Linked DNA regions of Homo sapiens: all the other regions are linked to region 1. Evidence: fine-mapped expression QTL. A gene starts in region 1. Each other region holds a variant in brackets. All regions are shown on one strand. Distances are from middle to middle.

Region 1 (5,104 bases):
TTTATCTTTTTCCTTTTATATGGGGAAAAATGCATTGATTTTAATCAATTTTATGTAATAAAAATGTCCCATTTTAAATGTATATCTCAACGAGTTTTGACAAATTTACACATTTGTGCAATTACAGCTACAATCAAGATAAAGGACATTCCTACACAGCAATACATTCCCTAAAGCCCCTCCCCAGAAAATACCCCCAACCACTGGCCATGAGCAACCACTGACCTGCTTTCTGTAATGATTTCCATATATTTTTAATCCATGGTTTTCTTTTATTTCATTTTTTTATTATGTATTTATTTATTTATTCATTTTTTGAGATGGAGTCTCGCTCTGTCGCCCAGGCTAGGGTGGCGCGATCTCGGCTCACTGCCAGCTCCACCTCCCGGGTTCACGCCATTCTCCTGCCTCAGCCTCCCGAGTAACTACAGGCGCCCGCCATCAAGCCCAGCTAATTTTTTGTATTTTTAGTAGAGACGGGGTTTCACCGTGTTAGCCAGGATGGTCTCGATCTCCTGACCTCATGATCCGCCCGCCTCGGCCTCCCAAAGTGCTGAGATTACAGGCGTGAGCCACCGCGCCCGGCCAGTTCTCTTTTTTTAGAGAGAGAGATGGGGTGTTGCTTTGTTGCCCAGGGTGGTCTCAAACTCCTGGACTCAAGCAATCCTCCCACCTCAGCCTCCCAAAGTGCTGCAATTACAGGTGTGAGCCACCACGCCTGGCCCATAGTTCTCTTATTATGAGTGAGGTTGGTTGTCTTTTCATATGTTCAGGGCCATTTTTATTTCTTCTTTTGTGAGCTCTCCGTTCACATCCTATGTCCTTGTTTCGTTTTGTTTTGTTTTGCTTTTTTCTATGGAAGTTCTTTATCTATTCACAAAATTACCGTTTGTGATATGAGTTTCAAATGTTTCTTTACAATTTGAAGTTTATTTTTTGACCTTGCTTGTATATTCATACAATCCATGTTCTATTTCATTCTATTTATGGTGTCTAGCTCTTACACTTTTAAAGGACTTCCCCGTTTCGAGATTATAAAATAATCTTCCACATTTTCTTCTAAGTGCCTTTATGCTTTCAGTTTTCACTTTTAAATGCCGACCATCTGGAATTTGGGAGCTGGGTGACCAACCTTCGCCGTTGGGAGACACGGATCCAAGTTCTGTTGCTGTCATTCAGATGTTTAACTTCTGAAAGATACGTTCCATTTGCGGAAAATACATCCTCTTTTTCTCAGTGATTTAAAATTCTCTCCTGAGCAGAAATGAAGTTCCCCTAGGAATGTAGGCCTATTCTAGTCCTTATATTCTGCCCATTGGCATGTCTCATGGGCTAGGCATCATTACCACAATTTTAACATGGAGCTTAATGCTAATTGGGCTGTTTCATGATCCCCTCGTGTGGTTTTTCTTTCAGAATTGTCATGGCCATTTTTGCTAGACTACTTCTTCACATGCACTTTAGAATCAGCTTGCCTGGCTCTAAAATAAATCCTGCATAGGCAATTCTAATGGACATCCTGGCTAAGTATCACAGTTTAAATCAAATATTATTAACAATTCTAATAACACCTCCCATTCGTACTCTACCTACTTTTCAAAGCAGTTTCACTCTTTCACCCACCTGGCCTCCTTGGGGTTAGAAAGGACAGGAGTTAGACAATTCCGCACACGTACAAAGGAGCTTCAGACTGCTTCCAGCCCAGCCCCAGATTCCAGCCAGACCTTCCCTTGACGGCCCAGGCCTCGCCCTGAGGGCACCTCGGGTTCCAGCTACCTCCGGGCCCCCAGGACCACCGCTTCCCCCGCCCCACGCCAACCCCTAGATCTGCCTCGCCCCCGCCTGAAGAGTCGGATCTGAACCAGGCCGGCACCACGGAGATTCCCCTGCGGGCCGCCCGACGCCTGGTAGGTGGTGGGCTCTTCCCGGCTGCCCCGAACACTTTCCTCTGTCCAGCTCTTCCCGTGCCCCGGGGCTGGGGAAAGCGTCCGGCAGCCCCGCCGCTCCCTGGCCCCGTCCCAGGAGCCACCCCACCGTAGGGCTCCAGCCAGGGTCCAGGCGTGCAGGCGGCAGAAGGTGGACGGGACGCGCCAGCCCCAGGCCTCTCCTCCCGCTCTCCAGCCGTTTTTCTGGGGAGAAACACCTGCACCCAGCTGTCCCTCCCTCCTACGTGAGTCCTCCTGGAAACCAGGTTGGAGGAAGAAAGACGTCCTGTGGACAGGACGGGGTGGGGGCATGGCCCTGGGGACTCCTCGTGACAGAGGGTCCTGCGGCAAGAGGGTCTCCCGGGCCGCGGAGGCCCTGCCTCACCTGCAGTCCTCCGGGAGCCCGCGGCCGAGCAGAGCGGACACTAGCTGACCCCGAGCAGGGGAGCGACGGGAGGGCGGAGACGGCAGATGCACGGGTGGGGGCTGCGGCCCCGCCCAGGCTGCGCGGTTTCCCGAAACCAGCTGCGGCCCGGGGGCCCGGCAAAGGGGGTTCCGCCCGGAGGAGCGGACCGGGCGGGAGAAGACCGAGCCCCCGCGCGCCCCCTGCGCTCCCACTCGCGCACACTTGCACGCCGGCCCTGGCCGGGCGGGGCTGGAGGCGAGAACGACCCCACGGGCTTTCCCAGGGCCGTCCGCCCGCGGACCCTCCCAGCTCCCCAGAGCCCAGTGACCCTCGCGCAGCAGGAGAACCCCAGACGGACCCCAGGCCCTGCAGCCTGTCATGAACCCGAGGGGCTGAAGTTCAGCCCCACCCCCGCCTCCCCTCCCCGCCTCCCCCTCCAACTCTCAACCCACTTCTCCAGCCAGCGCCCCAGCCCTCCCGCCGCCCGCTCGCAGGTCCCGAGGAGCGCAGGTGAGGCGGCACCCCACTCCCGGCGGCCCCCGGGCCTCCTTCCGCACGCACCCCGAGCTGCCTCCGCACAGTTGGAGGAGCGTAGGAGGGACCCCCACCCAGGGATGACACTCCAGGAAGGGGACTGCAGAGGAAGCCAGGTGCGGCCCCGGCTTTTGACCTACCTCCGCACCGCAGCGCGGTCCTTCACGGGGCAGGGGCGGCGTGAACCCGTCGGGCGTGAGCAGCAGTCGGTGGAGCGGGAGGTCGGCGGTGGCGGGGATGGGGGTATCCGGAGCGCAGCCGGGGCGCAGCTGCTGGCACAGGAGCTCCACAGGCAGCCAAGGACTCGGTCCTGTCCCAGAGCCTGCGGACTGTGGAGGGGAGGCCGCAGGAAGAGCCCGGGAGGAGGGGGTGAGGGGTCGAGGTGTGGGGCGCTGCTTGACCCAGACGCCAGGGCCCTGGGAGGAGGATGAGGGGGACAGAGCAGATCTTGGGCGAAAGGGGAGGTTCCCGCAGGCTCTGTAGTCGCCGCAGTTCCAGCATGGTCAGCACCCCCTCTGCTACACACATTCCCCTCGTGAGGGGCCAGGGGTGCGGCCCTGTGACCAGGACAGCCATTCATTGGGTGACTTTGAGCCACCACTGGCCCCTGACCTCCCCAACTCCAATGAAATCTGCGAAAATCTTCTGACAGCCGTTCCTCTCTGGTGCTCCCTTCCTCATAGACTGTGTCCCTGACAATGGGAACAGCCGACAGTGATGAGATGGCCCCGGAGGCCCCACAGCACACCCACATCGATGTGCACATCCACCAGGAGTCTGCCCTGGCCAAGCTCCTGCTCACCTGCTGCTCTGCGCTGCGGCCCCGGGCCACCCAGGCCAGGGGCAGCAGCCGGCTGCTGGTGGCCTCGTGGGTGAGTGTGACGGCCTGCCTCGTCGGGCGGCGGGAGGAACTCCCCACCTCCAGCCGCAGCAGCACTCTCTGCCAGCCTCCCTCTGAACAGGACACCGAGCCAGTTATGTCTTCTTACTTAGCGATGTGATTCTCTGGCCTTCTCAGTAAGAGCCTGGGGAGGGGAGGCTCTGGGCTGAAGGGGTGTGGAGGAGCCACTGACCATGCAGAGTCCCAATCAGTGGAGCCCTGAGTCCATCCTTTCCTCTGGGCCAAACTCAGGATGGGCCGGCTCTCCTCTCCTTCCTTTCCCTTCTCTTTTCTCCTCCTCCTGCCTCTTCTTCTTTCTCCTTCTCCTCCTCTTTCTTCTCCTTTTCTCTTCTCTTCTCTTCTCTTCTCTTCTTTCTTTCTCTCTCTCTCTACCTCTCCCTCTCTTTTTGGGGTTTTAGCGGTTAATCCCTGCAGTGGCAGGTCCACCTAGGAGCCGGGATCTTGGGTCCTTTGTCTTTCAGGTGATGCAGATCGTGCTGGGGATCTTGAGTGCAGTCCTAGGAGGATTTTTCTACATCCGCGACTACACCCTCCTCGTCACCTCGGGAGCTGCCATCTGGACAGGGGCTGTGGTGAGTAGAGCAGGACAGTGCTTGACTGCCTGTGAGAGGGGTGGGGCATTGCTCTCCTGATTGCCTTCCTCCAACATGGCGCCACAGAATGCTGGCAGTCGGAGAGATCTGATTATCTAGGACCATTCCCTGCCTGTTCAGATGAGCAAACAGCTGAGGGCGGTGGTGGCATGTCCTATTCACACTGTCTGCTCTCCCATACCCTTCCCAGTGCTGTTCCCACCAGGCTGGCTGCCTCTCCCTGCCTTCAACAGTTAATGTCAACTAAGGATCTAAGGACCTGCTCATCTCCAGATACTTGCATTGAGATGGGGAAGGCAGAGCGTTCCAGATAGTATGTGGTCCCCCAGGAAGCATCACCCCCTGGTTATTCTCATTGTCCTCCACAGGCCCTGTACACAATGGAAACCCAGGAATTGTTGTCAACAGATGGGTGTGTGCAGTTTGCACAGGAGCTGGGTAGGCTGGTCATGGTACCTACACTCTCAGAATAGCACTAAAACACTCATATTTACTGACAGAAGCCGAGAGTAATTACCTTCACCCAGCCTGTGGCAAAATACCCAGCTTAATTACAGAATTAGCCAAACAGGATTCAGGTCCACCTGTCCACTGGGACATACTAGATTTCCTGTTCTTCAAGCCCAGCTGAGTGGATTATTGGGCACTGTTAGGACAGGCTTCTAGACCTAACAGTGCCCACTCTGTATAGACTCACCCTTCATTGAGATCTTCTCCAGCACCCCATGACTTTTATCCACAGGAT
Region 2 (5,104 bases), 34 kb before region 1:
CACCACGCCAGGTGAATTTTTGTATGTTTAGTGGAGAAAGGATTTTGCCATGTTTGCCAGGCTGGTCTTGAACCCCTGACATCAGTTGATCCTCTTGCCTCAGCCTCCCAAAGTACTGGGATTATAAGCGTGAGCCACTGTGCCTGGCCCTGAATGTTTATAGCAGCTTTATTCATTACCAAAGCTAGAAATAGTTCAGCTGTCTTTCACAGATGAAAGGGTAAGTAAGTCTGTGTATATCCAGACAATGGGATACCATTCAGCAATAAAAAGTATCAACCCACAACACATGAATGAATCTGAAATTCTTTTTGCTAAATGAGAGAAAATCCAAAATGTTACATACTGAATGATTCTATTTATATGGCATTCTGGAAAAAGCAAAATTATAAAAATAGAAAACAAATCCGTGGTTGCCTGGAGTTGGGGGAGTCCTATGAAATGATGCCCCACTAAAGGGCCTCATTAGGAAACTTTTGGGCAGTCCAATTGTTCTGAGTTAAACTGTCTTGTTGTACACGTGACTCTATGCCTTTCTCAATCCCATAAACCTATACACCACAAAGGGTAAACTTTGCTGTATACAAATTTTTAAAAAATCAACTGAGATCTTGGGGAAATCCAAGATGAAAAGCGGACTGCTAAAATGAATCTAACCGTATTACAAATAAAAAAACATAACCATACGGAAGTTAGGAGGGAAGAAACGAGCTGACCTAAGTGCCTTTGTAAAGCAATGTTTTGACTGGAGAGTGTCAGGCCAAAGACAAGAAGAACAGTACAGAAGCAACAAACTCTCATTGGTAAATTCGTTTTTCACAAACAACCCTAAACCTATGGTATACTTGGGCTCAAAAATAATTAAATATAGTGTAAGCTATGGGATCCACTTTTCTCATTGTCAGAAAGAAGTTACAAATAAGCAGAGATAATGCTAGAATAAATCCTGGTGCTGGACTGGAGTTAGAAATATCAGTATGAACTCATGGTTGATTTATTTTTAGTAGATACAAAAATATAATATGTGTGCATATATGGGTCAGTTATACATACATGAATTACCTAGCTCTGCCCACTGAGAGAGAGGAGACTATGAGCAGTGACACCAGTAGCAATGAGCACAGCCAGCACTCAGATCTTGATTTCGAAATGCCGTTCCCTGATGAAAGGAACCAGGACTCCTTCAAGAAGTGTAGAAGTGGCTGATTCCAGGGCTAGGATAGGGAAAATAAATATAAGATGAGCCTGGAACACCTTATAGTGCCAGAAAGTAAAGAAGTGAAAACAGGATAAAGCATGTGAAAAATGCAGAAGAGGAGGCAAAAATTTGCCCCTCCTCTTTTATGGTTTTGTTGTTGTTGTTGTTGGGGGTTTTTTGTTTTTGTTTTGTTTTCTTGTTTGTTTGTTTGTTGCCTGGGCCTGGAGAATTAAATAGACATAAGACAAATCAACAGGAGAAAAGTATATAAATTATTTAATGCAAGTTTTTTAATGGCAGGAGAGCATTCATAAGGAAATGAAGACACAAAGCAGCAGCTAGAGTCAAACATTTATGCCCTGAATTGTGAAAATGTAACAAGGCAAAGGGGCTTATGCTAGGGTAAATAACTGGGTAAATAAGTAATTAGGAACATAAGGGATGCTTGTATAGATTCCTATCAGCCTCAACTTCCTATCCTTTGTGATGAGAATGTTACTTTCTTCTTGGTTTAGGGAGAACACCTTTCACATGGGAATTTCATCTCTGGCTTTTAAAGAACAGTGAAGGTCAGAGTGATCTTCTTGCATCTCCTGTTTTTATGTGCCTTTAGTTTAAAATAATTCTGATGCCAAAGTGGCATATTTGGGGATGATGTGTTCTGAGTGACATGTTTTGGGGTAGTGTATTCTGAGCCTCTTCATTCCCCATTTGAAACTTTACTTTTAGAAAGTTTCATATGTTAAAAGCCAAGTTAGTAGCTGTGAGCAGATTTGGGTTGGAAGTTGTGAAACAAGAGATCAACGAAGGGAAAGAAAAACAAGGATCGGAACACACAGAAGAACAAATATTCCCCGTATCTTATTGACACAGCCTTTTAGTCCTGAGAACAGTTCAGTTGAACAGTTGCGTCTCATTTTAGGAGGCCGTGTTGCAGTTGGGCTTCCATCCAAGTTGAGACTTCATAATGTAAACAATAAGAGGCATTTCTTTTTTTTTTTTTTTTTTTTTTTTTTTTTTTTTTTTTTTTTTGAGATGGAGTCTCGCTCTGTCGCCCAGGCTGGAGTGCAGTGGCGCGATCTCGGCTCACTGCAAGCTCCGCCTCCCGGGTTCACGCCATTCTCCTGCCTCAGCCTCCCGCGTAGCTGGGACTACAGGCGCCCGCCACCACGCCAGGCTAATTTTTTTGTGTTTTTTAGTAGAGACGGGGTTTCACTGTGTTAGCGAGGATGGTCTCGATCTCCTGACCTCGTGATCCGCCCGCCTCGGCCTCCCAAAGTGCTGGGATTACAGGCGTGAGCCACCGCGCCCAGCCCAATAAGAGGCATTTCTATGGAAACAAAAGAAAAATAAAGGTTAATGTTTAGGGCAAGTTATAAGCCCAGCTTTTGAGTCCAGAGGGCAATCAGTTGGTAAAGGGTACTATAGGTTGGGCTCAAAGCATCTTTAGATAGAGAGTGAAGATAAGCAGTGGTAATTCTGATCAATTTCCTGATTTGCAGTTTGAATGTCTCTGGT[G/A]AGGTCATTGGGTGTTCCAGTGGACTTTCTGAGTGGCCTACACAGCAACAGGCACAAAGGTTGCTTATATATTAGTTGTGGTAGTGAGTTCTCTGAAGTTTATATCAAGTCATCCAGTTTCAGCTTGCAAAATTTCAGGAAAAGGGCAGCTTCAGTTTTCAGTGATGTCAAGTCAAGAGAGTAGGAGAAAAACATGAAGCATTAGCCTGAAGATTTGTTGCCGGATATGGGAGGAAATTAGAGTTTAATATCTAATCCATTCTACATATAGATAACAAAACTTCAAAGACAATGAACAGTACTAGAATCCAATAACGGGTACACTATAGTTTTTGTTAATATAATTTTTCTCTCCACAGTCACTCCCACTTTTACCAAACATAATCACAGTAAGACTAATTTTTTTACAAAATAAGTCTAGTCACATTAAACTTGTCTTGATTATTTATATAATGCAGCAAGAATAGTGATTGATCGTATAGGCTCTTTTTAAGTCTGCTTTGCTGGAACTGCTAATAAGGAATCTAAAAGCCTCTCAAGTCTAGGAAGCCAAGCCAAGAGCTTGTCATTAGATTTTGCCTGTAACACCTCTAGATTTGGGTGAGTTCCTCTGTTCTCGAGGTCTCCAAAATATTTTTAAGGCTCCTGGGCCTGCATGAAAGTTACCTTCTTTACTCAACTATAAGGCTAGGAACTCTGTGAGCAAGGTACCAGGCTGGGGGTTTTTTAAGGGGCCTTATTCGCCCCACAAAGTCATCCTTAGTTTCTTAAAACTGTGTAGTCATATCTGATTCTATGACATTCTAAAAATTACATTCCAAAGCTTTGGTAATGTAACCAATGTTTTCCATTGTGTCCTGTTACAAACAGATAGATTCTTATTGGACCTATACAAACAACTATGGTCATGAATGTAAGAATACTCACTCATCATTTTCAAATTCTGGAGGGATTAGGTAGGGAGAAAATCAAATGCTTTATTTCTGTTTACAAATGCATAATCTACCAGATTGTGGTCAACTACAGATAGCGTAGGATAAAAGAGAAAACATTTCCTCAGATCTGGAAAACAAAATATTAAAGAACGAGCAATGTTTTGAAAAAAGGTAATTTTTTAAAGCATCATTTTTTTTCATCAGTTCATTTAGTCCCATCCAATTAATTTTTGTTTTGCCCAACATCGGGTTAACAGTTTTACAAACCAGTCAGTTTCTTCATTAGAGTTCTGGAAATTCTTACCCAGGCCAATGGTGGGATCTTAAAGTTATCAAAAACCTGTACTTGTTGGAGTCTTTTCCATGATCTCTTTGAAGACAAATTTTGACCATAGTGGCTTGCAAAAGCTTTTAGGAAAATATCACAGTAAAATAACATGTAAATTATAAAAGATTTTTAAGTAGTCACATTTAAATATCTAATGAGAGTTTCTTACAATCTAATTGATGAGGAAATTTGGTTATTTCTGTGACATACAACATTGTAAAATAAGATGTAGAATTCTGATTGATAACATTATATCAGACATATGATGAATAGCTAAGGGTATTGACAAATTTTAAAGAATTTTATTTCTGAAACACTCTTATTAGTAACATGTGCCCATATAAATATAAAGAAAGCTAAACGTCACTTTTACTTGACAGTGCTTCCCACATAATTTAACATATCAAATAAGCCAATTAGTTTAATGTCCCTCTTTTACAAGGTGAGAGAGAAATTCTTTCACATTTTCCAGGAGCCCATCTCAAAAGTCCCAAAGTTAGTTCAAGATCAATAAAAAAGGCTTAATTTAGAAATTAATCTTGGGAAGTTTGTCAGAAACGTCAAAAGGGGCCGAGTATGGTGGCTCACACCTTTAATCTCCACATTTTGGGAGGCCAAGGCAGGAGGATGGCTTGAGCCTGGGAGTTAATACCAGCCTGGGCAACACAGACCTATCTCTACAAAATATTTTTTAAAACATTAGCGGAAGATAGTAGCATGCACCAGTAGTCCCAGCTACTCAGGAGGCTGAAGTAGGAGGATCCATTGAGCCCGGGGGTCAAGGCCGCAGTGAGCTGTGATCATGCCACTGCATCGTAACCTGGGTAACAGAGTGAGACCCTATTTCAAAAAATAAAAACAATAATAAAAACTAGGAGTGGAAAGGATAGGGGTTTAGATGAAACAAGATTGCCCATGTATAACTGTTGATGCCTAATGATAGATACGTTGAGTTCAGTACGCTATTTTTTCTACTTCTATGTATTTAGAATTTTCCACTTAAAAAGTTTTTTTAAATAGATTGACAGAGGTTTATCAAAGTTCATAATATTTCAATTTTTCCAAATATTTTAGATATAATGGGTTAAATGGGATACTTTTCAACCTTTCAGTGAAAGAGTAAGA
Region 3 (5,104 bases), 94 kb after region 1:
GGACCCCACAAGTTTGGCACATACATGGATTTAGAGACTGGTGCCTACTTATTGCCAGAAGCTTGAAGGTGGCCGGTTAGCCAAGCAGCCTGAGATGGCCAGGCAGTGGGAATAGCCTACACCCACCTCTTATAGTGACAAGGATGACGGGAAACTCCAGAGAAAGTGGCCTGTGGACCTCTTGAAGATACAGATATGCCTCATGTTATTGCACCTTGCTTTATTGCGCTTTGCATATATTGTATTTCTTACAAATTGAAGGTTTGCAGCAACCCTGCATGGAGCAAGTCTATCAGCACCATTTTTCCAAAAGCAAGTGCTCACTTCGTGTCTCTGGGTCATATTTTGGTAATTTGTGCAATATTTCAAACTTTTTCACTATTATTATATCTGTTAGGGTGATCTGTGATTAGTGATCTGTGATCTGATGTTACTACTGTTATTGTTTTGAAGCACCGTGAGCCATGCCCGTGTAAGACGGTGAACTCAGTCGGTTAATGCTGTGTGTGTTCTGAATGCTTCACTGACCATTTCACATCTATCTCCCTCTCCTTGGGCCTCCCAATTCCCGAGGCACAATAACATTGCAGTTAGACCAATTAATAACACTACAATGGCCTCTAAATGTTCAAGTGAAAGGAAGAGTTGCATATCTCTCACTTTAAGTCAAGCTCTAGAAATGGTTTAGCTTAGTGGGAAAGGCATGTCAAAAGCCAAGATGGGCCAAAAACTGAGTCTCTTGCACCAGTTAGCCAAGTTTTGAATGCAAAGGAAAAGTTCTTGAAGGAAATTAAAAGTGCTACTCCAGTAAACACATGAATGATAAGAAAGCAAACAGCCTTATTGCTGATATGGAGGAAATTTTAGTGGTTTGGATACAAGATCAAACCAGCCACGACATTCCCTTGAGCCAATGTCTAATCCAGAGCAAGGCTCGAACTCTCTTCAATTCTATGAAGGCTGAGAGTTGAGGAAGCTACAGAAGAAAAGTCTGAACCCAGCAGAGATTGGCTCATGAGGTTTAAGGAAAGAAGGTATCTTCATAACATCAAAGTGCAAAGAGAAGCTGCAGCAAGTTATCCAGAAGACCTAGCCAAGATCAATGATGAAGGTGGCTACATAAACAACAAATTCTCAAAGTAAATAAGACAGCCTTCTGTTGGAAGAAGATGCCATCGAGGACTTTCATAACTAGAGACATTCATAGTCAATGCCCGGCTTCAAAGCCTCAAAGGACAGGCTGACTCTCTTGTTAGGAGCTGATGCAGCTGGTGATTTTAAGTTGAAGTCAATGCTCATTTACCATTCTGAAAATTCTGGAGCCTTTAAGAGTAACGCTATATCTACTCTACCTGTGCTCTATAAATGAAACAACAAAGCCTGGATGACAGTATATCTGTTTACAGAATGGTTTACTGAATATTTTAAGGCCACTGTTGAGACCTACTGCTCAGAAAAAAACTGTTCTTTTCAAAATATCACTGCCCATTGACAATGCACCTAATCACCCAAGAGCTCTGATGGAGACATGCAAGGAGTTAATGTTGTTTTCATGCCCACTAATACAACATCCATTCTGCAGCCCATGGATCAAGGAGCAATTTCAACTTTCAAGTCTTATTATTTAGGAAATACATTTTGTAAGGCTCTAGCTGTCGTAGATAGTGATTCCTCTGATGGATCTGGGCTAAGTAAATTGAAAACCTTCCTGAAAGGATTCACCATTCTAGATGCCATTAAGAACATTTGTAATTAATGGGAAGAGGTCAAAATAGCAACATTAACAGAAGTTTGGAAGAAATTGATTCCAACCCTCCTGAATGATTTTGAAGGGTTCAAGACTTCAATGGAGGAACTCACTGCAGATGTGGTGGGAATAGCAAGAGAAGTAGAATTAAAAGGGGAGCCTGAAGAGGTGACTGAGTTGCTGCAATCTCATGACTAAACATGACTGGCAGCCAGGCGCAGTGGCTCAAGCCTGTAATCCCAGAACTTTGGGAGGCCGAGGTGAGCGGATCATCAGAGGTCAGTAGTTCAAGACCAGCCTAGCCAACATGGTGAAACCCCTTCTCTACAAAAATACAAAAATTAGCAGGGCATGGTGACATGTGCCGGTAGTCCCAGCTACTCAGGAGGCTGAGACAGGAGATCACTTGAAC[C/A]CAGGAGGCAGAGGTTGCAGTGAACTGAAATTGTGCCACTGCCCTCCAGCCTGGGCAACAAAGCGAGACTCCATCTCAAAACAAAACAAACAAAAAAAAACCTTGAATGGATGAGGTGTTGCTTCTTATGAATGAGCAAAGAAAACAGTTTCTTCTTTCTTTTTTATTTTCTTTTTTGAGACAGAGTCTTGCTCTGTTGCCCAGGCTGGAGTGCAGTGATGTAATCATGAATCACTGCAGCCTCAAGCTCCTCAAGTAATCCTCCCACCTCAGCCTCCAAAATAGCTAGAACAAGTGAATGCTACCATGCCTGGTTCTTTTTCTTTCTTTTTTTTTTTTATATATAGGCAGGGTCTCACTATGTCGCCCAGGCTGGTCTCAAAGTCCTGGCCTCAAGTGATCCTTCCACCTAGGCCTGGGATGATTCCAGGCTGGGATTACAGACATGAGCCACCACATCCTGCCTGTTTCCTTAGATGGAATATACTCCTGGTAAAGACGCTGTAAACATTGTTGAAACGACAACAAAAAAATTAGAATATGACATAAACTTGGTTGATAAAGCAGCAGCAGGGTTTGAGAGAATTGACTCCAATTTTGAAAGAAGTTCTACCTTGGGTAAAATGCTACCAAACAGCATTGCATGCTACAAGGCAATATATTATGAAAGGACAGTCCATTGATGTGGCAAAATTCATTGTTTTCTTGTTTTAAGAAATTGCCACAGCCACCCCAGCCTTCAGGAACCACCACCCTGATCAGTCAGCAGCCACCAACACCAAGGCAGAACCCTCCACCAGGAAAAAGATGATGACTCACTGAACGCTCAGATGATTGTTAGCATTTTTTTGCAATAAAGATTTTTTTAATTTAAAGTATGTACATTGTATTTTTGACATAATGCTATTGAACACTTAATAGGCCACAGTATAATATAAACATAACTTTTATATGCACTGGAAAACCAGTGGATTTTTATAACTCACTTTATTGCAATATTTGCTTTATTGCGGGGTCTGAAAGTGAACCCACAATATTTCCAAGGTGTGTCTGCACCTGTTGTGGGTTGAACTGTGTCCTCCAAAAAGATATATTGAAGTTCTAACCCTTGGTACCTATCACTGTGACCTTATTTGGAAACAGGTCTTTGCAGATGTGATCAGTTAAGACGAGGTCACGCTAGAGTAGCGTGGACCCTAATCCAATGGCCAGTGTCCTTATAAGAAGAAGAGAAGACACAGAGAGACACATACACACTCAAAGAAGAAGCCCATATGCAGACAGAGGCAGAGATTGCAGTGATGCTTTCACAAACCATGAAACACCTGGGGCTACCAGAAGCCAGATGGATAAGGAAGCATGCTCCCCTAGAGGTTGCAGAAGGAGCGTGGCCCTACCAACACCTTGATTTTGACCTTCTGGCCTCCAGAACCATGAAAGAATACATTTCTGTTGTTTTGAGTCACCCAGTTTATGCACCTTGTGGTGGTGGCCACAGGAATCCAGTAACACCCCCTTCTAAGAGGGCAGCCAGGCAGACGAGGAGAACTATGCAGTTAGAGGCTGTGGGGTGGACAGCAGGGGACAGGTCATCAGGGCACTGTGCAGGTCCAGGTCCATGATGCTCGGAAGAACACACACCTGCATCCAGCAGAAGAGCCAGTGTTGCATATCAGCCACCCAGAGCCCAAGGGTCCATGTAAGCAAAAATGGCCACGCCAGTGGGGCCACTTTTCCTCCAAGCCCCCTCCCCTCCATCCTGGCCCCAGGAGCATCAGCAGGTGTGGGAGAGGAAGAGAGGAGGGGACGGCCAGACCTGCCCCTCCCCAGGGTAGGAGCCTTGGACCTGGGGTCCAGCAGAGCTGGGAGGAGAGGCAAAACTGAACTGGATGTCAGATGTTGGTTGAACTTGACAGACCTGTTTCACACACAAACACAATCAAAAAACTATGGTGGGATCTGCGCCAGCCTGATTAAGGTGGGGAAGGAAGATCCAGCAAGACACACGGGTTGGGAATCAGGGACTGCTGGGAGACTTAGCACGGAGACACTGGACTTCAGGGAACTGGAAGCTGGGAGGATGGGTGAACTAAGAGATAAACAGGGTGGGTACTCCAGAGACAGCAATGCCCAGAGAGGCAGGGGCAGAGGGAGGGCGTGGAGTTCCCAGACCCTGCAGCCGGGTCACCAGTGGAAGCTGGGAGCCCTGGGGGCCTGTCTGTCGCAGCTGGAGAGAAAGGGAGAGAAGGTCCAGCCCCCTCTGTCTCATGCTCAGGCCTCCCATGGGTGGAACCTGGAAGTGTGGGAGATACCACTTGCAGGGGTCTGTCCCCACAAGACATGGCAGAGGAGGGAGAGGACAAGTGTAGAGTCTCAGGACAACAGATCCAGGACCAGCACCGCATGTAGAAAGGCAGTGAAAGGAAAGGGGGAGACCTCCACTTCGGCCCTGCCCCCTCCCTATCTAGCTCCGACTGGTCGGCAAACTGGTTCCCAGCCATGCAGCCCCAGGAAATGGCATTGATGGTGCTTGGACCCAAAGTCATGTCTGTGGGGTTCATCTCCTGGAGGAGGATCCCTGGCCACACCCCTTGGGGTGGACAGATCCCTCTCCCTGGAAATTCCCCTTTGGGGTAGGCAGATCCCTCCATCTAGCAATTTGCAGTTCACAGACCCCAGAATGCAGGGCCAGAGACAGGGACACTCCCAGAGTTACCCGGGACATCCCTGTATGTGTTTGGTTGTGGATCAGAGGAGGGAGAGGCTTGTTCAACACACAGCCACCTGCCCCTCACCAGAGACAGAGACCCTGGGGCTGGGGAGGAATCCAGTCCATTCGCTCCAGACACCCACCCCAGGCTCAGGAACAGTGCAGAAGAGAGACAGGGGCTGGCTCCGAGTGAGAGAGACACCCGCCATTCCCAAACCCTCTTTGCGGAGGACCA
Region 4 (5,104 bases), 380 kb before region 1:
GAATGGACTGGAGGTGACCATCTCCTTGGTGAGAGGCCAGGCCAGAGGACCTAAATGCTGGTGACCCTCACCAGCTGTGCTGAAGCCCCTCTCCACTGGAAACAAGGGACAAGAGTCAAATTCACAGGTCAAGGGTTGGGGTCTAGTCTGACCACATGTCTTTGGCCAAGGTCCTTACCATCTCGAGGCTCAGTTTCTGATACATGAAATGAATGGGGTGGACTGGCCGACCTCAGGTTCTTCTTGGGTGCTTCCCCGACTGCTTGTGCAGGCCTCTTTTGGGTGGTGACCCCCCAGCTCGGCTGAGTGGCCAGGCCTCACGGGGCAGGCTGGAGAGGTCCCTGGGACGCTGCTCCTGCTCCTCTAGGCTTGCCACCATTCCTGTGACTCGGGTTTTGCTCTGCGCTAGGCTACCACCATCTCTGCTCTGTACAGACGCTTGGTGAACTGAAACTGGATTTTTTTTCTTTAAGCAGGAGAACTGCAGTTGCTAGCAGTTTCTAGCAGCAGACACAGAAAGTCACCTTGGAGCAGAACTTCTTTGTTTCTGGAAGGTCATCAGGCCCTTGCAGTTAAACCAACACTAAACAAATACACACTGCTACTCTTGCACTGGCCTTGGACTTGGAAAGCATCTCAAACACAGACACTTCAGGCTGGTGTGTTTGCTCTCCCGTTTCATAACAATCACTGTCAAAAGGCTGTTGTAAGGCAGAGCATCAGGGACAGGGGCCTCTGGGGTGTGGGAAGGACCTGAAAATCTCTCAGTGGGGAGGGGCTGAGCTGGTCCTTCCCCTGGCACATGGAAACCTGCTGGGGGATGACAGGGTCCCCTGAGATGGGGTTTAAAGCATGTGGGTTCAAGAGAATCTGAGTTTATAGGAGTAGTGAAAACTGTGTCCATGTGTGGGGCAAGAGAGTCTTCTGGAGAGGGTGACATGATGGTGCACAGGCGTTCTGAGAGGTGGGGGAGGGACTGGCTGATGGACAGAGGTGACAGCTTCCGCTGCACATGAGTGCTCTCAGAAATTACGGAGCAGGAGGAAGCGTATGGGGCTTCCAGAGGGAAAATGGACTACATATAGTCCCAGGGACTGCGGAGGATTCCGTCTTTATGACATCGTGAGAACCGTATTTCAGGCTGCCAAGGCGATGCACTGGCTGCTGCTTTTCCCACCTCTGGCCTGGTGCTCACTCATGGGGTCTGCTGTGCATGGCCAATGCCTGTTCTTCTCCTTTCTGCCACTGCTCTTGGCTTTAACAGGGTTCAGGACATGCCACCCCAAAATATAGCATCTTGGCATCAAGAAAATGGCAGAAGCAGGAAGGCCACGTTGCCCTTCCCCTCGCCTGTCTCCCCCGAAGCAGGCCATAGAAGAATTCTCGGATCTTCCTCTAAAGCAGGTCATAAGACCCTCATTCCAGAAGCATCCTCCCTATCCCTGGAGAAAAGGAGTGCCCTACAGAGACCCCAGGAAGAATCTGAACAAACAGGCTTTGCTAAGTCCCCCAGTTTATTAGCATAAGTCACACCCTCTTGTCCTCCAATCACACATCTGCACGACTGTGCATGAAGACAGTTTCTCCTGTTTCTTTGGGTCTTTATTTCTTTTTTTCTTTTTTTTTTTTTTGAGACGGAGTTTCACTGTTGTTGCCCAGGTTGGAGTGCAATGGCTCGATCTCAACTCACTGCAACCTCCGCCTCCTGGGTTCAAGCGATTCTCCTGCCTCAGCCTCCTGAGTAGCTGGGATTACAGGCGTGCGCCACCACGCCTGGCTACTTTTTTGTGTTTTTAATAGAGACGGGGTTTCACCATGTTGGCCAGGCTGGTCTTGAACTCCTGACCTCAGATGATCTGCCCACCTCGGCCTCCCAAAGTGCTGGGATTACAGGCGTGAGCCACCACGCCCGGCTGGGTCTTTATTTCTGAAGTTCCTGTGTCACATGAAATTTATATTAAATACATTTGTATGCTGTTCCCTTGTTGACCTGGCTTTTGTTACGGGGGTCTCAGCCATGAACCATTTTTTTTCTTTTTTAAGACAGAGTCTCACTCTGTCACCCAGGCTGGAGTGCAGTGGTGTGATCTCGGCTCACTGCAACCTCTGCCTCCTGGGTTCAAGTGATTCTCCTGCCTCAGCCTCCTGAGTAGCTGGGATTACAGGTGCCTGCCACCACGCCTGGCTAATTTTTGTATTCTTAGTAGAGGTGGGGTTTCACCATGTTGGCCAGGCTGGTCTCGAACTCCTGACCTCAAGTGATCCACCGCCTCAGCCTCCCACAGTGCTGGGATTACAGGCGTGGGCCACCGCACCTAGCAGCCGTGAACCTCTCCATAGGAATTGCCTTCTTCTTCCTCTAGCTTCCTCAGCACTCTGCTTTCTGCAGGTGCCTCTCCTTATGCCGCATGCGGACCCCGAGGGAGGTTGTACTGTGGTTGCTCACAGTCTTGTTTAGGGAATCTCTTAGGCAGAATCCTTTCTCCTGGCTCTGCTTGTGTCATCTGTGAGC[C/T]TCGAGGTGGCTTCCCTAGGCTGGGGCACATCCCCTGGTCCCATAGCTATGGCCCGAGTGACAGAGGTCCCAAGCATCAATCCCAGGGACTTATTCACAAGGGCATGGTGAGCGTTAGTCTCAGAGGGGGTGTCTATGGACAGGCCTGGGGTGCTCTCCGGCTTGCCTGGCTACTACTCTGTGGTTTCTCCCTGCTCAGAGCCCATACTTTGCCGTGCAAACTTGTCATTTGGTAAATTATCACGCATGCCCTGTGTTCCCTTTTCTCTCATTTTCTTGAGATTAGTTTCTCATGTGTTTTTGGCTTGATCTCCAATCAATGACAAATCATATTTGTGCAACATTTTCTGGTTCACTTTCACAGGTGTAACTTGAGGGCGTGGATGTGATCTTGCAGGCCCGAGGCTCCCAGTGTCTGACATGGGGAGCTCCCGATGAAGAGATGGCTGGCCTGGTTGCATGAAGGTTGTCTTGATGGGATTCTTGTTCTGGACATAGAGCTGGACCCTTGGACAACCAAAATATCACTTCTGGAGCTCCTGGGGTTCCATACTGCCTCCCCCTGGTGGGTAGGTATTTATAGTGAGTTCTCCCTCATGCCTGGAGAGTATTATAAAATGGGACTGTTTTCTTGGCCATTGTCGGAGCATATTCAGGACATTTTACAATAAGAGAAAATCAAGAAACAGGGCCAGTTAATATGGCGGTGCTATTTTAGGCAATAAGGCAAGTCGCAACAGATACTACACATCACTGGTAGGTCACATTCTGTGAACGCAATGCAATAGAAGTCATTCACAAAAGACAGCAAATGAAAACTTGTATACATTCAGGGTTTTTTTCTTTCTTTTTCTTTTCTTTTTTTTTTTTTTTTTTTGAGATAGGGTCTCACTCTGCCGCCCAGGCTGGAGTGGTATAGTGGTGTCATCATGGCTCACTGCAGCCCCAAACTCCTGGGCTCAAGGGATCCTCCTACCTCAGCCTCCCAAGTAGCTAAGACTACAGGCATGTGCCACTATGCCCGGCTAATTAAAACTTTTTTTTTTTTCCTGTAGAGACAGGTTCTCACTTTGTTGCCCAGGCTGGCACATTCAGGGATTTCAAAAACACATTTATTAATAATTCAAATCAAAGAAAAAATTGTGATGGAAATAATGAAATATTTATGAATTAATGACTACTGTGAAATGCTACACTTCAAAACTTGTGGATACAACTGAAATCAACTAGAGGAAATGTTTAGCTTTAAATGTATTCATCAGAAAAGAAGACGTTTTGAAAATCAAAAAGTCAAGAGTTCAATTTAAGGCCAGGCATGGTGGGATGGTTCACACCTGTAATCCCAGCACTTCGGGAGGCCAAGGCAGGAGGATTGCTTGAATCCAGGAGTTTGAGACCAGCCTGAGCAACGTAGCGAGATCCCATCTCTAAAAAAATTTTTTTTAAAATTAGCTGGGCATGGTGGCATGCACCTGTAGTCCTAGCTACTTGGAAGATCCCTTGAGCCCAGGAGTTCGAGGCTATGTTTGCACCACCTCACTCTGGCCTGGATGACAGAGTGAGATGCTGTCTCTTTAAAAAAAAATTCAACTTAAGAAGTTAGAAAAATAATGGAATATATAGCCAAAGAAGGAAAAAAATAAGGATAAAAATTAATGGACTACAAAACAAAAATAATATTAAAGAGACTCAGTAAAACCAAAACCCGTTCTTTGAAAAGACAAATAAAACAGACAAACCTCTGCAAAAAGTAAAAAAAAGAGAGAAGTCAGTCATAAACAATGCTAGGAATGAAAAGAAGATGATTACCATGGATACAATAGAGATTTTGAAAAATCATGATAAAATACTGTGAACAATTTATGACTATTTTACATTTATATGAAATGGATTATTTTCTAGAAAAATATAAATTACTAAAAGAAACTTAAACCAATCTGAATATACCTATAAGCATTAGAGTACCTGAATCAGTGGTCAAAAATATAACCTTCATTCCCTTAAGTTAATTAAGATAGGAGGCCCAGATAGTTTTACTGAGGAGGTTTGTCCACCTTTAATGAAAAGATAAGCTCTCACATACAAACAGTTCCAGCGAGTAGGGGGAAAAACACATCCAAACTCATTTAATGAGGTAGATTAGTAAAAGTTGAAGACGAAACCAGAGCAGAACAGCACCATGTAGAGAAATTTTCAGCCAGTCTCACTTAGGAACAGAATTGTACGAATCCAAAATAAAATATTAGCAGATTAAACCCAGAAATGTATTTAAAAGTATAGCATGGCTGGGCATGGTGGCTCACGCCTGTAATCCCAGCACATTGGGAGGCTGAAGAGGGCGGATCCCTTGAGGTCAGGAGTTGGAGACCAGCCTGGCTATCGTGGCGAAACCCTGTCTCTACTAAAAATACAAAAATTAGCTGGGCATGGTGGTGCGTGCTTGTAGTCCTAGCTACTTGGGAGGCTGAGGCAGGAGAATCGCTTGAACCTGGGAGGCGGAGGTTGCAGTGAGCCAAGATCGCGCCACTGTACTCCAGCCTGGGCAACAGAGCGACACCCTGTCTCAAAAAAAAAAAAAAAAAGAAAAAGTAT
Region 5 (5,104 bases), 23 kb after region 1:
AAAAATATTAATTCATTAATTGAACAAATGTGTATTAATATCTCTCATGTGGCAGGCACTGTCAGCACTGGAAAGGGAACTGTGAACAGGTTGGACAGTCCCCTGCCTCCCCCAACCCACAGTGACGTTGAGGAGTGAGGGCCAAAAAGCCATGACATTTTCCAGTCTTCGTCTGGCGCGCCCCAGGCTACCTGCTCTGCTCCAGCCAACTAGTCAGAATCACACCATTACATCCCCCAGGCCCCAGAGTTACAGGGCAGGCAGGGTTTTTCCTACTGTTTCACTGTCTTCAGCCAGTTTCTCCTTGTCCCACCTCATCGGCTAGGACACACAATTCAGCAAACAGGATTTCCAGTTCTGAGCTGGAGCCAACCCCCGTCACAGCCCACCCTAGCTGAACATCCACCGTGATGCTGGCCTACTCCTGCCCCAACCCTGGCCCAGTGAGATGCAGGGCTGCCGATTCATTAGGAAGACCCTCTGCACTTGAAAGAACAGTGTGGAAACAATCTACAGGAAAGGATCTTCTTGAAAACATGAGTGCTACCCTACAAAGAGCCCAGGAGTGGCCTCTCCTCCCTCCCCCACCCAGTCAAGGCTAGGGGCACAGAGAAACCTGCCTCCTCCCCAGCAGAGGCAATGTGACCCAGGGCCCAAAGTAGAATGCCCTGAGAATGCAGCCCCAGTCCCCCAGCACAATCTGGTCACCTTTAGCCTCAAAGACAAGGATTTCTCAAACAAGACATAAAAAGCACCAGCCATAAAGAAAAGGACTGATAAGTCCAAATCCACTAATGTTAAAACTTTCTGATTCTCAAAAAACGAAGGAAGGAAATGAAAAGATAAGCCACATAATCTGATAAAATATTAGTCAACACATAAATAACAAAGGACCAATTCCAGAAGGTGTTAAATTGAATCATATGAAACTGCCATTTTTTGTAAGTCAAAAATGGTCAAGTGTCAGCAATTTCACATGAAGAATTCTTAAAAATCATTAAGGCGGACAACCCAACAGAAAAAATTGCCAAAGATCTGACACTGTACATAAGAGGAAGCCCAAATGGCCAATAAATAGTGGAAATGTGTTCAACCTCATCAATAAACCAGGTAGTCAAATTAAAACCTCAATAAGATAACATGAACTAAATCCACAATATTCCACAAAAATTAAAGTCTGGCAATACCAAGTGTTGGTTAGGATGTGGAGCAATGGGAACTCTTGTACACTGCTGGCAGAAATGTAAACTGGTACAACCACTTTGAAAAACAGGCATGAACTAGCAAAGTTGAAATATATGACTTATGACTCCACCATTGCATTTCAAGGTATACACCCAGATACACGAATTACCAAGGTCATGTGTGCAGAAAGGATTATAAATACATTGTTCATAATATCCCCAAACTAGAAACAAGACTAATATCCATCATCATTAGAATGAATACACCCATTGTTGCAAATTCCTAGAGTAGAAAATTACACACTAATGAACAACCTACAACTACATAAAATTAAGAAAAATAAATAAGACAAAAAAATTATCTTTGGTAAGACCCTGTTTATAGAAAGTTCAAAACAGACGAAACCAACTTATATCCTTCAGGAATGCCTACAAAAAAGGAAAAAAATCTAGAGAAAAGCAAAAAAGTAATTTGCACAAGAGGTATTATATGGCTCATTTCTGGAGAGAGGGAGAAAGGGAGGGGTTGTTATTAGGGGACTGGGGTTGCTTCTGGGGCAATGAGCTATTCTTTGATTTGGTGATACATTAAGTTTGTTTTATAATTACTCACACAACTACATATGCTTAATGTTCATTTGTATGTATATTTTATAATTAAAAAGAAAACTGAAGAACCCAAAATTCTGTCAAAGCCAAATATCTTTAGACAAATCTTGAGGACAAAGGGAATGGAAATTCCATCAAAGTGGTGCAGTGACCTGAGTAGGAGTTTACAGATTATAATCTGACATGAAAATCAGAAA[T/C]TATATGAACCAAATCTAAGAGGGACAGCTAAATGGCCACCGCCTTTAAGTAACAATGTCCCTCTTTTAGACTCTAAATAGGATTCAAGGGATCCCAGTAGTGTCACATAGATGTAGACACATCCCAACAGTATTCTCTAGTTAAGAAGTTCAGCAAGATGGAAACTCATTTCCCAAAATCAAGAACCACAACTTACAAAGAGAAATTATATGCTGAGCAGCACTTTTGAGGCAGGAGATGGTAGAGAGGGAACCAGAGACTGGATACAGGAAGAATGAGTGAGAGCATGAGAGCAGAAGCAAGGTGAAGGGGCGAGTGAGCAAGAAGTGAGATATGAAGCAGAGGCTGAGCAGCCAAAACAAAAGTGAGATTTTAAAAAAGTGAGTAAGGAGCCCACATGGCCGCCTAGATCTGGACCAAACCTGTCAGGGGCAGCTCCTCAGAGATGAGCATGCACGTTAGACAGAAAACATATCCTTAAAATGTTCCCGTATGGTAATTAGCTACTTAAGGTTCATGCATATGGACTGCATATTATGCACGTACTTAAAATTATGGGATGGAGGTGACTCGCAAGAAGTCACAAGCGCACACGGGCCATAGTATTAAATAACTAAGCAGCCCACCTGTCCATCAAAAGGCAGACACTGGCTAGACATCAGGCAGTCTTGGCCACAGAAGAGAAAAAATATATAAAAGAATTCAAAGTACACCAAATTGACGTTGATCTCATTTCGCAGAGGTCAGTCCACTCTCCCCTCTCTGGGAGTGTAATACTATGCGTCATACACTTTTGCTGCTTTGCTATCTGTGTGTATCTCGTCCAATTCTTCGGTCAGGACACTAAGAGCCTGGAGCTGCACAGCACCATCTGGTAACACTTTCAAGAAGAACAAAATAAAACCAACATCAGGGATGCCGCTAGTTGCAGAAATGTTTGCGAAAGTTGATCAAATGAATTGGGTCATTTTTGTCATACCCAACTAAAACAAAGTCAAAAAGCCAGGGGGAAAAGCACTCAGGAAAGATAGCATTGCTCCAAGAATGTAATTCTCCGCATGTCTAACTGCTGAAACCAACTGTTGTAACCTGAGACCAGTTTTATCTACCCTGCTGAGATAACTTGCTGCAACTCTAGGACTAATTTTGCCCAATGCCATTGCCCACCAGTTGAAACTTGCCAGCTCCCTAGAACCTTATTAGTGCCAATGAACTTTCTCAAAGAGCAATGGGTAACATTCGGTAAAACCTCCAGCCTTCTCTTTGTTCTTACGGTGTGCATGTGTGTCCCAAGTGGCAATCCTTTCTTCCCAAATAAACGGTTAAATTTAGAGCTCAGTCTCTACTTTTTTATTTTGACTTCAACAACTTGAAGCCAGAAACAGTAGGAAACGCAGTAAAGGAAGCTGAGAGTATGAACGCCCATGCCACAGCTGAATTAATAAAGGACCACCGGGTTTGGAGGCCGGGCAACAGATGAGAGGAACTTTAGAAAGGTGGTGCTATCCCCAGTGAGCTTGAGGAACACATGTCTGTCCCTGCCATGTAGAGGAAGATAGTACCTGGCATTTTACCTGGCCACAGCACACACACATTAAATATTTGCTGAGTGAATCCCAAACCAGGAGTGTTTCCAAACTCCCCAAAGCTGCGCTACTGGGACACGAGGTGGTGCTGTGCACATTCATGGGGTGGGGAGGCGGGGCTTAGCACATAGCTCCCTCATCATTGGCTTTTAGAGAGTGAGCGGCAGGCAGGTTGTCCATTGGATACCAAGATATGGCGGCCCCCTGACTGGGAAGACATGACCTTACACACCTTGGTTCTTTAACTTGACCTTGGGAAGACAGGGCCAGCCAGCAAGGTGGCTGGGGAGAAGGCCGAGGTCCCCGGGCCGCAGACGGGAATTGAGGGTCAGGAGCCGAAGTGAAACTGGAGCCGGCGCCACGAGATGCAGCCCTGAAGGGCACCTCCACCCAGTGGCCCTCCCCCACCCCACTCCCGGGGCCCTCCTGGCCCAGCGTCACCCTGCTGCGCTAGGACCTACAAGGGCGGCCTCTGGGAGCCCTCTGCTTTACCTCCTCTCCTGGGTCAGGCTGCAGAAAGAACAAGCTCCTCCACCCTGCCTGGTAGGCATGGAAGGAGGGCAAGTGTTGGTAGCCATGGTAACTCGGGGTAGCCATATTTTCGTGCAGTCACTCTGACCCCATCTCGATGGACAAGGATTGTCCCATCTGTTTCTACAACTGTTTCCCAAACAGGCAGTGCTGTCCTAAGGAAGCACCCACCTGGCCCAAACATGCTGTGCTTTCTTTGTGGCTGCCTTGCCTCCCCAACCAATTGTAACCCCTTGGAATCAGGACTGTCTCCCGTGCGTTTTCTTCTCTCTGCAGCCTCGCCTGCAAAGGCTTCTGTGCCTTCCCTGAGATGCCCTAGCAAATGGGTCTTTTCGAACATTACCCACCTCAACGTAAGTCCTAGGCCAAGCCGGTTCTCTGCTTATTCAGAACAGAGTGCGTCTTTACTGTCATGCCATTACCTGGCAAAGGGAATTGCCGGACGGCAGGTGGCACAGAATTCCTTTGGAACTCCAAATTCTTTTTTCAGCTTAGTCTTCCCTATGATTCTGACATTTTCTACCTGAAGGCAGAACACATGGGTTGAGCTTGGGTTCTCAGAATAGAGGGGTGGAAACCAAAGCGGGTCTGCTTGAGAGGATTCATTTTTGAGCCTTCTTCCCAACAGAGTATGTAGCCAGCCCTGAAGACAAAAACAAAAGAAAGGAATGAGATCGAAGTATCTGTTCCCCTGGCTTCCTCTGTGCCAGATCACAGCCTGGCTTAGCACTGTTCTGCCAAAAGCCACCGATTTGGTCAGGTGACTGTGTCCTGCAAGTCTCCCCCGATCTATTAGCCATGCCCTCTCCTTGCCTCTTCTCACCTACCTAGGGGTGAAAATGGCCTCCAACTACGCTTAGCTTCAAGGTGCTTCACCTCCTCTGGTGATGTCCTTGCCCCTGCCTCATCTTTGTAAATAGTCCCTTTTTTAAACTCGATATTCCTCCTTCTGAGAATGCCATTTCCTAGCAGAACCCTAACTGACTTTTCTTTTTC

Alleles and levels. Alleles are on the strand shown, and positions count from the first base shown. SD is a standard deviation of normalised expression in the study named. Not every link is listed here.
With allele T in place of C in region 4, the expression in transverse colon of the gene that starts at base 2,377 in region 1 is higher (large effect, 1.2 SD a copy in CEDAR).

What was found.
Region 2: its variant is fine-mapped to the expression of TMEM176B in whole blood (INTERVAL, PIP above 0.99).
Region 3: its variant is fine-mapped to the expression of TMEM176B in whole blood (INTERVAL, PIP 0.98).
Region 4: its variant is fine-mapped to the expression of TMEM176B in transverse colon (CEDAR, PIP 0.95).
Region 5: its variant is fine-mapped to the expression of TMEM176B in whole blood (TOPMed, PIP above 0.99).

Annotation. Positions count from the first base shown.
Region 1 is chr7:150,797,988-150,803,091 of GRCh38, forward strand. It overlaps TMEM176B (transmembrane protein 176B), which reads right to left and starts at 2,377. Exons shown (of 7, transcript NM_001101312.2): 1 at 2,311-2,377. TMEM176A (transmembrane protein 176A) reads left to right here and starts at 2,782. Exons shown (of 7, transcript NM_018487.3): 1 at 2,782-2,841; 2 at 3,549-3,737; 3 at 4,228-4,338. The coding sequence starts at 3,564. RefSeq lists enhancers at 1,374-2,073, 2,074-2,773, 2,774-3,473.
Region 2 is chr7:150,763,790-150,768,893 of GRCh38, forward strand. It overlaps LOC105375566 (a long non-coding RNA gene), which reads right to left. Exons shown (of 4, transcript XR_928163.2): 3 at 1,063-2,187. Among named protein-coding and RNA genes, the nearest start is that of GIMAP5, 29 kb to the left of the region's middle. The variant G/A (reference allele first, on the strand shown) is at 2,717.
Region 3 is chr7:150,892,455-150,897,558 of GRCh38, forward strand. No RefSeq gene overlaps it. Among named protein-coding and RNA genes, the nearest start is that of AOC1, 42 kb to the left of the region's middle. The variant C/A (reference allele first, on the strand shown) is at 2,160.
Region 4 is chr7:150,414,987-150,420,090 of GRCh38, forward strand. LOC124901773 (a long non-coding RNA gene) reads left to right here and starts at 351. Exons shown (of 2, transcript XR_007060587.1): 1 at 351-659; 2 at 2,877-5,104. The variant C/T (reference allele first, on the strand shown) is at 2,513.
Region 5 is chr7:150,820,844-150,825,947 of GRCh38, forward strand. It overlaps LOC105375567 (a long non-coding RNA gene), which reads right to left. Exons shown (of 5, transcript XR_928171.3): 4 at 4,456-4,751; 5 at 1-2,871. Among named protein-coding and RNA genes, the nearest start is that of TMEM176A, 23 kb to the left of the region's middle. The variant T/C (reference allele first, on the strand shown) is at 1,991.